Linked DNA regions of Homo sapiens. The protein of the gene in region 3 purifies or fractionates together with the protein of the main gene of each other region. This does not show direct contact. Each region holds a gene or a part of one and is shown on either strand. Other genes may lie near its edges.

Region 1 (3,649 bases), on a different chromosome or scaffold from region 3:
AGTTCTTTGGCTCTGCCTTTTAATGAGTCCAGAAAACCACCCACTGCTCCCCGCCACCTCCACCTGGGTCTCAGCCACCAGAGTCTGTTTCCTGGCCTCTTGTAATGAGCTCCCAACTTCCACTTCATCCCCTACAGACCCACCCTTCTTCATCCAGCAGCCAGAATTTTTTTTTTTTTTTCCGAGATGGAGTCTTGCTCTGTCACTCAGGCTGGAAGGCAGTGGCGGGATCTCGGCTCACTGCAACCTCTGTCTCCTGGGTTCAAGCAATTCTCCTGCCTCAGCCTCCTAAGTAGTTGGGATTACAGGTGCCTGCTACCATGCCCAGCTAAATTTTGTGTATTTTTAGTAGAGACGCGGTTTCACCATGTTGGTCAGGTTGGTTTCGAACTCCTGACCTCAAGTGATATGCCCACCTCAGCCTCCCAAAGTGCTGGGATTACAGGCATGAGCCACTGCCCCTGGCCCAGAATGGCCTTTTTTAAACAGTTCAAGTTACCGTCCAGTTCCAAATCCTCCAGGAGCCTCCCATTGCCTTCAGAATGAAATCCTAAGTCCTCTGCCTAAAATGCCCTCTGTAGAACTGGGCACAGTGGCTCACACCTGTAATCCCAGTGCTTTGGGAAGCCGAGACAGGAGGATGGCTTGAGCCTAGGAGTTTCAGATCAGCCTGGGCAACATGGTGAGACCCGTGTCTCTACAAAAAAAAAAAAAAAAAAAACCCGAAAACTTCACCGGGCGTGGTGATGTGTGCCTGTAGTTCCAGCTACTGAGGAGGCTGGGGCTGAAGAGGCTGGGGTGGGAGGATCAGTTGAGCCTAGGAAGTCGAGGCTGTAGTGAGCTATGATTGCACCGCTGTACTCCAGCCCGGGCACCAGAGCAAGACTCTGTCTCTAAATAAATAAATGAAATAAAATGCCCTCCACCATCTGACTCTCAGTTCACTCTGCGACTTCATCTCCACTTCTGCTCAATCATTTGGTGCTCGTCACGCCAGCCTCCTTCTTGTTTCTTGAACACCCCAAGCACGATCCTACCTCACGCCTTTGCACTGGTGGCCCCCTCTGCTTTGCCTCAGGTCCCCTGAGCCCTCCCTCACTTCATCTAAGGTTCTGTTCAAATGTCACCTCTTCAGAGAGGCCTCCCAGACCACTCTCTAGGAAACTGCAGACTCTCCACCCGCAGACATATACCTGACCCTCCCATCTTCCCTTCCGCTTGAGTTTTCCCCAGGACACTTACGACCACAAATCTGTGATTATTTGATCAATTATATGATTGATCTCCTCAACTGGACTAAAAGTCCTTGAGCTCTGAGTCGAGTCTGTTCTGTTCACTGTTCCCAGTGCCTAGGCCAGAGCCTGGCACACAGCAGGAACTCATAAATGCTTCTTTTGTGAATGAATGAATGAATGAATGAGTGAATGACCGGAGTGCGTGGGTGACTGCACTACACTCTTTTTTTTTTTCTTATACTTTAACTTCTGGGGTACATGTGCACTATGTGCAGGTTTGATACATAGGTATACATGTGCCATTTTGGTTTGCTGCACCCATCAACTCGTCATTTACATTAGGTCTTTTTTTTTTTTTTTTTTTTTGAGACGGAGTCTCGCTCTGTCACCCAAGCTGGAGTGCAGTGGTGGGATCTCGGCTCACTGCAAGCTCCGCCTCCCGGGTTCACGCTATTCTCCTGCCTCAGCCTCCCGAGTAGCTGGGACTACAAGCGCCTGCCACCACGCCCGGCTAATTTTTTGTATTTTTTTTAGTAGAGACAGGGTTTCACCGTGTTAGCCAGGATGGTCTTGATCTCCTGACCTCGTGATCCGCCTGCCTCAGCCTCCCAAAGTGCTGGGATTACAGACGTGAGTCACCGCGCCCGGCCCACTCTTTTATTATTATTATTATTATTATTATTATACTTTAAGTTCTAGGGTACACATGCACAACGTGCAGGTTTGATACATAGGTATACATGTGCCATGTTGGTTTGCTGCACCCATCAACTTGTCGTTTACATTAGTTTTTTTTTTTTTGAGACAGGGTTTCACTGTTGCCCAGGCTGGAGTGCAGTGGCGCGATCATAGCTCACTGCAGCCTTGACCTCCAGGGCTCAAGCGATCCTCCCACCTCAGCCTTCCGAGTAGCTGGGACCACAGGCGCATGCCACCATGCCAAGCTAATTAAAACAAAAATGTTTTGTAGAGATGGAATCTGGCTATGTTGCCCAGGCTGGGACTGCACTGTTTGACGTCTGAGCAGTCCTCTGCCTGAGCTGGGACACCAGCATGCCTACCTCCCCACCTGCCAATTCCTTGTTCCTAGTGGATGGGAATGGAACAAGGTAAACACCCCCCACACCCCTTCTTCCCAGCATCTAGGACTTGATGAAGCTGCACCTTCAAAGTCTTCCCGAGGCCACTCACAGTCACTCTGCCCTGGGTCAGACTCAAATGCAGATCGGGCGCAGGCTGGGTTTAGGGCCCTGCTATGCATTAAGATTGCAGTGGAGCCGGGCGCGGTGGCTCACGCCTATAATCCCAGCACTTTGGGAGGCCGAGGTGGGTGGATCACAAGGTCAGGGGTTCGAGACCAGCCTGACCAACATGGTGAAACCCCGTCTCTACTAAAAATACAAAAATTAGCTGGGCGTGGTGGCGGGCACCTGTAATCCCAGCTACTCAGGAGGCTGAGGCAGGAGAATTGCTTGAACCTGGGAGGCAGAGCTTGCAGTGAGCCAAGATCATGCCACTGCACTCCAGCCTGGGTCACAAAGCAAGATTCCATCTGAAAAAAAAAAAAAAGATTGCAGTGGAACTGGGGCTTGGGAGCTGTTAGGGTTTTCACCTCCCTCAGCAATGAGGTTTTGAGGCGAGGAGAAAACCAGGGCCGGCAGGGTGCAGTGGTTCATGCCTGTAATGCCAGCACTTTGTGAGACTAAGGCGGGTGGATCACTTGAGGTCAGGAGTTCGAGACCAGCCAGGCCAACATGGCAAAATCCCGTCTCTACTAAAAATACAAAAGTTATCCGGGCAAGGTGGTGGGCACCTGTAATCCCAGCTGCTCAGGAGGCTGAGACACAAGAATCACTTGAACCCGGAAAGCAGAGGTTGCAGTGAGCTGAGATCATGTCACTGCACTCCAGCCCGGGTGACAGAGGAAGACTCCATCTCAAAAAAAAGAAGAAGAAGAAGAAGGTCGGGCGAGGTGGCTCATGCCTGTAATCCCAGCAATTTGGGAGGCCGAGGCAGGTGGATCACTTGAGGTCAGGAGTTTGAGACCAGCCCGGTCAACATGGTGAAACACTGTCTCTACTAAAAAAAAAAAAAAAAAATACAAAAATTAGCCAGGCGTGGTGGCATGTGCCTGCAATCCCAGCACTTTGGGAGGCCAAGGCAGGTGGATCACTTGAAGTCAGGAGTTCAAGACCAGCCTAGTCAACATGGTGAAACTCCATCTCTACTGAAAAAAAAAAAAAAAAAACAAAAATTAACCGGGCATGGTGGCACGTGCCTGTAATCCCAGCACTTTGGGAGGCTGAGGTAGGTGGATCAATTGAGGTCAGGAGTTCGTAACCATCCTGGCCAACATGGTGAAACCCCATCTCTACTTTAAAAAAATACAAAAATTAGCCAGGCATGGTGGTGCG
Region 2 (3,649 bases), on a different chromosome or scaffold from region 3:
GTTGGGGGAAAAAAAATCAAAAGACTATTTTGGGCTGGACACTGGCTCATGCCTGTAATCCCAACACTTTCGGTGGCCGAGTAGGGTGGAGAGCGTGAGCCCAGAAGTTCAGGAGTTCAAGACCAGCCTGGCCAACATGGTGAAACGCCGCCTCTACAAAAAAATACAAAAACTAATGGGGGGCGGTGGCAAATGCCTATAGTCCCAGCTACCTGGAAGGCTGAGGTGGGAGGATCACTTGAGCCTGGGAAGTCAGGGCTGTAATAAGCTGTGGTCATACTGCTGCCCTCCAGCCTGAGCAACAGAGTGACACTGTCTCAAAAAAAAAAAAAAAAAAAATGTTATTGAAACATAGTCACATTCATTCACATCTGTAGTGGCTGTGGTTACTTTTGCACTACAATGATGGAGTTGATTAGATGCAACAGAGACCTTAAGGTCTTCAATGACTAAAACATTTACTGTCTGGCCCTTTACAGACAGTCTGTCAATCCCTAATTTATTATATGCCTTCTTCTCCCTCAGCTAACTAATTGCCTCACCCCAGGAATGTTCATTACTACCTCTTCTTTGTTCAAGCCCCAGCTACTCCTCAAAACCCAAAATTCCCTTCTTCCCCTTTCCCAAATCCTAACCATATCAGCAGTTTGTGTGGAAGTAGGTAAGCAAAACACCATTCGTCATTATGTAAAGCAAGGCATTGGAGATGCGGTCCCTACATGTACAAGGGGAGGCTGATTACCCCCCAATTCATTTCCAATTTCTCAAAGCAGGTTGGCAGGCTAGCACCTAGGAAGGAGAGAGTGAGCAGATGATGCAGACAGAGCACTGAGAAACTCCTCAGTAACTCATGAGAGTTCATGTGTCAGTCCCCTTGTCTGCTATGTCATCCTTTAGACATCAATTCAAGACAGCAAAATTCAAAAAAGAAATGAGGAAGAAAAAGGTGATGAGGGGCAGAAGGAAAATAGAAGAGAACTTGTCACTTCACAATGTAGAGACTGTCACAAACTGTGGTGAATGGAAAACTATTCTGTTCACCTGGGCGTGGTGTCTCACGCCTATAATCCCAGCACTTTGGGAGGCTGAGGCGGGCAGATCACTTGAGGTCAGAAGACCAGCCTGAGCAACATGGTGAAACCTGGTCTCTACTAAAAATACAAAAAATTAGCCGGGCATGGTGGCACATGCCTGTAATCCCAGCTACTCGGAAGGCTGAGGCATGAAAATCACTTGAGCCCAGGAGGTGGAGGCTGCAGTGAGCTGTGATTGCACCATTGTTGCCCTACAACCTGGGCAACAGAGCTAGACCTGTTTCTAAAATAATAAATAATAATAATAATAATTAAAAAAATAAAATGTACATTTCTAACTTCATTTCAAAGTTAAGGCCAGGTGCAGTGGCTCATGCCTGTAATCCCAGTATTTGGGAGGCCGAGGCAAGGGGATCACTTGAGCCCAGGAATTTGAGACCAGCCTGTGCAAAATAGTGAAACCTTGTCTCTAAATTAAAATAAAATAAAAAGTAAACAAAGTCAAATTTTTTTTAAAAATCAGAAGAGAAACGTTGAACTGCATACTTCCAGGCCCAACAGAGTAGAGGTCAGCACAGGCGCAACCAGGTTGCATATCTACATACAATCTGCCCTGGCAGGAAGGATATCCTTTTCTTCCAGGTTTAACCACTCTAGGTGACCCAGATTATTTTAAATTATAGCGTCAACAATTTAAAGCAGCTTTTACTGTAAGGCACAATCTCAATAATTAATAGGGCAATATAATAAATACATAAAAGCTCAGGGAGAAAACAAGACTCTTGAATGGGCCTGGAAGTTTTGCCACGTCCCCCGAAGTACTCTCGGTTGCATCCTTCGGAACCTTTCAACACATATACATATACCTCCCTCATCCTTTTGTGAAGAGTGTCTATTAATCACTAGATTAAGAGGATTTGGATAAAATTTATAAACGTACAAACTGTGCTACCAAGGACTGACACATTTACTTTTCTGGCTCATCAGTTTATGTCCTAGAAAAACTCCAGATCCACATTAACCAGCTGTTTCCTATTTTACATTTTACGATGGTGTTTCCACTTTCACCTGCAAAGTGACTAATAGTAATACCTATTCCAGTAATTTAAGTAACACCATTTAGAGTAATTTCATCTTTAGTACTGTATTTATACTACTAAGAAAGCTGCCAACGATTCAAGCTGCACTCACTGGTGAAACCCTATGCTATATATGTAATTAATTTATTTCCTAAATTCTTACCTCCCTCCACCCCCTCCATTGGAAAATAAACTCTAAGAATGCAAAAGTTTTTGTGTGTTTTTCTTTAACGCTTAGAGCAGTGCCTGGCACCTAACAGTCAATATCTGCTAACTTTGATGAATGAATGGTATATTTATATTATGCAATATTACTATGCAGCCATGAAACACAATGAGTTAGAGTGGTACCAGCTAATTTAATGGAATTTCCAGAAGTATGAAATTAAGAAAACAAGAAGAAAAGTGTCAAAAATATCATCCCACTTTTTTTTTTCTTCCCTGAAACGGAGTCTTGCTCTGACACCCAGGCTACAGTATAGTGCTGCCATCATGGCTCACTGCAACCTCAAACTTCTGGGCTCAGGGAATCCTTCCACCTCAGCCTCCCATGTAGCTGGGACTACAGGTGTGTGCCACAACGCCCAGCTAATTTATTTTAAATTATTTTTTGTAGAGACAGGGTCTCCCTATGTTGCCCAGGCTGGTCTCAAACTACTAGGCTCAAGTGATCCTCCCACCTCAGCTTCCTGAAGTGTTGGGATTACAGGTGTGAGCCACTGTGCCCAGCCTAATCCCACTTTTTAAAAAGTATACCCCCAAATCCATACACTGGTGAGGAAGTGGAGAACGTGGAATCCTCATACACAGAATTTAAAATGGTACAGCTCTGGAGAACATTATAGCAGTTTCTCAAAGTGTTTAACATAGCTACTACACGACCCAGCAATTCAATTCCCAGATATACACCTGAGAGAACTGAAAGGATATGTCCACACAAAAATTTGTAGAGGAACTTGTACACACTTGTTCACAGTAGCATTATTCTTAATAGCCCAAAGTGGCAAAAACGCAAATGTTCATCAACTGATGGACAAATAAAGCATGAACAACTGATGGACAAATAAAGTATATCATTCAGCATATAAGAAATGAAGTGCTAATACATGCTACAACAGGGACAGACCTTGATAACATTTTGCTAAATGAAAAAAGCCAAACAAAAGGTCACATGTTGTATGATGCCATTTACATAAAAATACCTAGACTAGGCAAATCCATAGAGACACAAAGATCAGTGACTGCCCAGAGCCAGAGGGAGTGGTGAATGTGAAATGACTACTAATGAGTACAGACTTCTTTTTGAGGTATTGAACATGTTATGGAATCAGATGGTGGTGATCAATGCATAACTTTGTGAATATACCAAAAACCACATGAAAGGTACACTTTAAAAGCCTGAATTTTAAGGTATGTGAATTATATCTCCATAAACCTGTGATTTTGTTAATATACGCTTATTTGCAAATGAATACATGGATAATGAGGAATAATATGAAAGGTTAATGACAACCTTGGTGATAGGGTACCGGAGAC
Region 3 (4,210 bases):
AGTTATGGGCAGAACCGTCCTAGCAGAATAAGGGAGAGCAAGAGGCAAGGAGATGGGACAGAGGACAGGACCAGTCCTAAAGCCAGTCAGAGTGAAGGAAAGCACTGCCTCGCCCTGGGATACATCCTGAGGGGGCCCACGTGCCTACCTGGGGATGGGCAGCTGGAACAGCAGAACTGGGGCCACTCCCGGCACCTCATCACACAGGGTCCGCTCCCTGCTCTTCCCTTGCACCAGCTCCCTGGGCATGCATCTTCATTTCCTGACCAGCTGCTGGACCTCATGCCCCTGAATATTCCTTCCAAGTGGGCCACACAGCCTACGGAAGCATTCAGAGTCAGCAAACAAGGGAGGAAGTTGCCAGGAGCCTGTGTGCCAAGGACCGAGGCAAGAACTCCTCCTAAGAGGAAAGCGCTTGGGAAAGAGACCATGATTTGTGACAAAGACTGGGAGTGCTGGATCAGGGGAGGGGGAAGCTGAGCCCCTCTCAGTGCACCTTGGGTCCTAAGGAGAGAGAAGGGAGACAAAGGCTGCATTCACCATTTCACTAAAAGTCTGCCACTGAGCAGCCCTTCTTTTCTTTCTCCGTCTTTCCCTTTCTCCACACCCCACCCCCTCCACCTTTAACCTCTAATTCAATATGCCCCACCCAAATCCAGAATCTTTTCCCAAACCACTTCCTCTCCCCCATCTTCCTCACTCTTGACCAAGAAGCCTCCCTTTTCCATCATCCAAGCTCAATATCTTGCAGTTGCCTTTGACCTCCTCCATCTTTCCTGTCCTGAGTTTCTTGCCTGGGTTCCCCTCTTTCCAGTCAGCCCCTCCAGCACCCCCCCACACTCTAGTCCAGAACCTCAAAGCAGGTGATCATCAGCTGCAGTTACTCGCTCTACCAGCCCCACACCTCCCAGCGCCTGGGGAGGTTGTTAGCACAGGGTCGGGTTTTTTGTAAGGTTTTTTGGCTGTTTTCGAAGGCAGATTGTGGTATCTCATTCCTGATTAAGTTGCTTGAATTCCCACCCAAACCTCCCTTGCCAAGGTCAGGATAGCTCTACAGGAAGGGAACAGGCATGGCCCTTCTCCCCAGGCCCCAGCCAGGCCCTAAGCCACTCCTCAGCCAGGCAAGACTTTAGACTCATTTCCTGCCCCGTGAGCACTTAGAATAAACTTCCTCCTTCCTTGTGAGATTGTTTAACAGGGCAGGGAGAGTTGATGGCAAACTTCCTCAAAGGAGGGGCAGAGCCTGCGCAGGGCAGGAGCAGCTGGCCCACTGGCGGCCCGCAACACTCCGTCTCACCCTCTGGGCCCACTGCATCTAGAGGAGGGCCGTCTGTGAGGCCACTACCCCTCCAGCAACTGGGAGGTGGGACTGTCAGAAGCTGGCCCAGGGTGGTGGTCAGCTGGGTCAGGGACCTACGGCACCTGCTGGACCACCTCGCCTTCTCCATCGAAGCAGGGAAGTGGGAGCCTCGAGCCCTCGGGTACGTCCCCCCAAGAATGGAAAGGGCTATGGTTCCAGGTACACATGATTGACAGAGGGGAAAATGGAGGTGGGGAGGGTGGGAAATAGGAGTGAAAGAGCCTGAGACAGAATGATGAAAGGAAAGAAAGAAGGAAACCACATAATCGAAGAGATTCCTGAGATCAGACTCAGGAAGGCAAATAGATTTCATCTGAGGCACCAGGCCTGATCAATGAAATTAGACTGTGATAAAAAGGATTCTGGGGCTGGGTTCGGGCTCAGGCAAAAGCATGCTATGATTGATTAGCTATGTCTGCCATGGGCACAAGAAGGAGCTGTAGGGCATGCCAGCTAGGGATTTGATAACCCACACTGCAGGGTTTTTTCCTTAACCACAGGGGCCCCTCAACATTTATTCTTTCATTCACTCATCTATTGATTCAAAAAAACACATTCCAATGATCAACAGTGAGCCACACAAATATTTGAAAAATGAATAAAAAAGAAAGGAATGTTGTTCTTTGGCCCCAAATCTCATTTTTCTCATAAGGTAATGATCTGAAAAGTTATGACAAAGGTGCATGGACTTGAGAGATTTTCTAGCTATGTAATATTGAGCTAGTCCCTTTCACTAAGACTCAGTTTCCTCATCTGTAAAATGGGAGAGAGAGTCTGAATATCCCCCATCAATCGCTGAAGTTCTCATTGTCTACGCAACTATGATAATCATCACTGAAGTACATAAAATAACATGTATGATGTGCTAAGTGCTCTCCATATAATAACACATTTAATCTTCCTATCACCTCTACAAGGAAAGCACCATGATTATTCCCACTCTGCAGACGGAGAGCCAAGGCAGTGAGAGATTTAATAACTTCCCCAGGCAATCTGGCTGCAAAGCTTTTGCTCCTGCCCACTATGCCACACTGACTCTACACTGCAGTGGATTCTGAGTCCATGGCTGGAAGTGGGCTGCCTGGGTACAAGAGTGTCCTTCTAGATGATTCATCCAGTGAGCATTAATTGGGTCAGGTAAAAAAGACACAATGATTAACAAGATGAGGTATCATACATGGTTCTAACCAGAAAGGGAAAACTTGCACAGATAGTCATTTTCAAAACAGTTTGACATACACCATGGAGATAGCCTGGGAGTCAGGGCAGACTTCTCCCAAGAGAATGCCGGGTCCTTCAGGAGTGAAGGGCAGGGGAGGAAAAGATTGGGTCAGTGGAGAATCTCTGAGAAGGGGGAACAGGAGGAAAGAAAGAGGAGGGCAGAGCAGCTCAAGCAGGAAAGGGGTAGTAGCTGGTGGTGGAAGGTGAAGTCAGTGAGGTTGTTGCGCCCAGGTCTGCACAGGCTAGGGAGGAGTTTGCCATTGCTCAGCATCTGCCCAAATCTGTGCATCTGCCTGTCTGCCCTTGGGCACCTGGAGGTTTAGGGGCTTCTGTCTTATGGCCATGGTGTGCACACCTCTTCCTGAGCTCAACTCCATCTTTACACACAGACCCTGCTGCTTCCCATAGGAATGTTGAAGCCTCCAGAACCCAGGGGCCTAACTTCCTCATTGGCACTTCCCTGCGGTGGGGGATGCTCGAAGTCATCATTTGCCAACATTTCCTGGTGCTGGGGCAGCTGCTCCCCCTTGGAGGAGACCTACCTGTCTACTACTGGCAGTCCTGGTGAGACTTCAAGTGGGCAGCCGACAAGCCTGCCTGGGGGACTGGCAGCCCCCACCCAGCCTGCAGTCCCAGAGGGCAGGTGCCCTGGAGCGGAGCAGACATTTCCTACAGTTGGTGCCAATCCCTTGCTTCTGGAGGCTCAGAGGTTTGCTCCCCCAAGGGTGTGGCCTGGGGAGACAAAGACATAGAGGTTGTGGGGAGAGCAACCCTGCCTTTGGCATTTGAATCCCAGTTCTGCCCTTTTTCCAACCATGTGACCTTAGGCAAGTTGCCTATCTTATTGGCTTGTCTGACCCTCCCTTATCTCAAAAGAATGAGGACGGTAATAAGTTCTTTGGGATTTGACAGTGTGCATTTTGAAAAAGACAATGTGTGCAAAGCATCTACCATGATGCTTGCCACGTAGTAGGTGCACAATATAGGACAGTGCTGTTGTCCAAGCTGTGCACCTTCTATGCACCAGGCAGTCTGCATGGAACTGGGCATTCAGAAATGATTAGACACTGTCTCAGGAAGTTCACAGCCTATCAGATAAATTAGTCACATCAATGATTGAGAGTAAAAGGAGTCAGGGACTGCACTGTACAAGAGATGTGAACAAGTTCTACGTAATCAGTACAAACAGCAGTCCCAAAACTGGGCAACGCATATGGAGGGTTGACTGTGTCTATAGAATGGTGCCAAGTACTGTACATGGATTAGCTGGTTTAAATACAATAACTTTGCATGGGAGGTCTTATCATCCCCATTTTGCAGTGAACTACTGAGGCCTAAGGAGGTGAGGTAACCTGCCCAAGGTGGCAAGGCTATGAACGGTAGAGAGAAGCTTTATGGCCAGGCAGTCCAGCTCCAGGATCCATGCTGTTGGCCACCACACTCCTCTCCCTCCGACATGCACACACATCGCAGAGGGAATGATCTAGGCCTGCACAGGCTGCAGAAGGGGGACCTCACAAAGGAGGCCACATTCCACAAAGTATGGAATTCCTCTGGCGAGGACAGGTGAGGGCAGCCCTGGTGGAGAAATCCCTGTGAGCAGAGGCATGGAGCTGGGAGCTGGGAGCT

The links.
Region 1: the proteins of FAM3D (region 3) and CNN1 purify together in Homo sapiens (affinity purification with mass spectrometry; one large-scale study listed by BioGRID and IntAct). This does not show direct contact.
Region 2: the proteins of FAM3D (region 3) and SPECC1L purify together in Homo sapiens (affinity purification with mass spectrometry; one large-scale study listed by BioGRID and IntAct). This does not show direct contact.

Annotation. Positions count from the first base shown.
Region 1 is NC_000019.10:11,541,735-11,545,383, reverse strand, and holds part of CNN1 (calponin-1), read right to left. Parts: intron 1-3,649. UniProt on the Homo sapiens protein: Thin filament-associated protein that is implicated in the regulation and modulation of smooth muscle contraction. It is capable of binding to actin, calmodulin and tropomyosin. The interaction of calponin with actin inhibits the actomyosin Mg-ATPase activity.
Region 2 is NC_000022.11:24,277,268-24,280,916, reverse strand, and holds part of SPECC1L (cytospin-A), read right to left. Parts: intron 1-3,649. UniProt on the Homo sapiens protein: Involved in cytokinesis and spindle organization. May play a role in actin cytoskeleton organization and microtubule stabilization and hence required for proper cell adhesion and migration.
Region 3 is NC_000003.12:58,663,847-58,668,056, reverse strand, and holds the start of FAM3D (protein FAM3D precursor), read left to right. Parts: upstream 1-1,282; 5' UTR 1,283-1,481; exon of another isoform or gene 1,482-1,519; intron 1,520-3,123; exon of another isoform or gene 3,124-3,424; intron 3,425-4,210.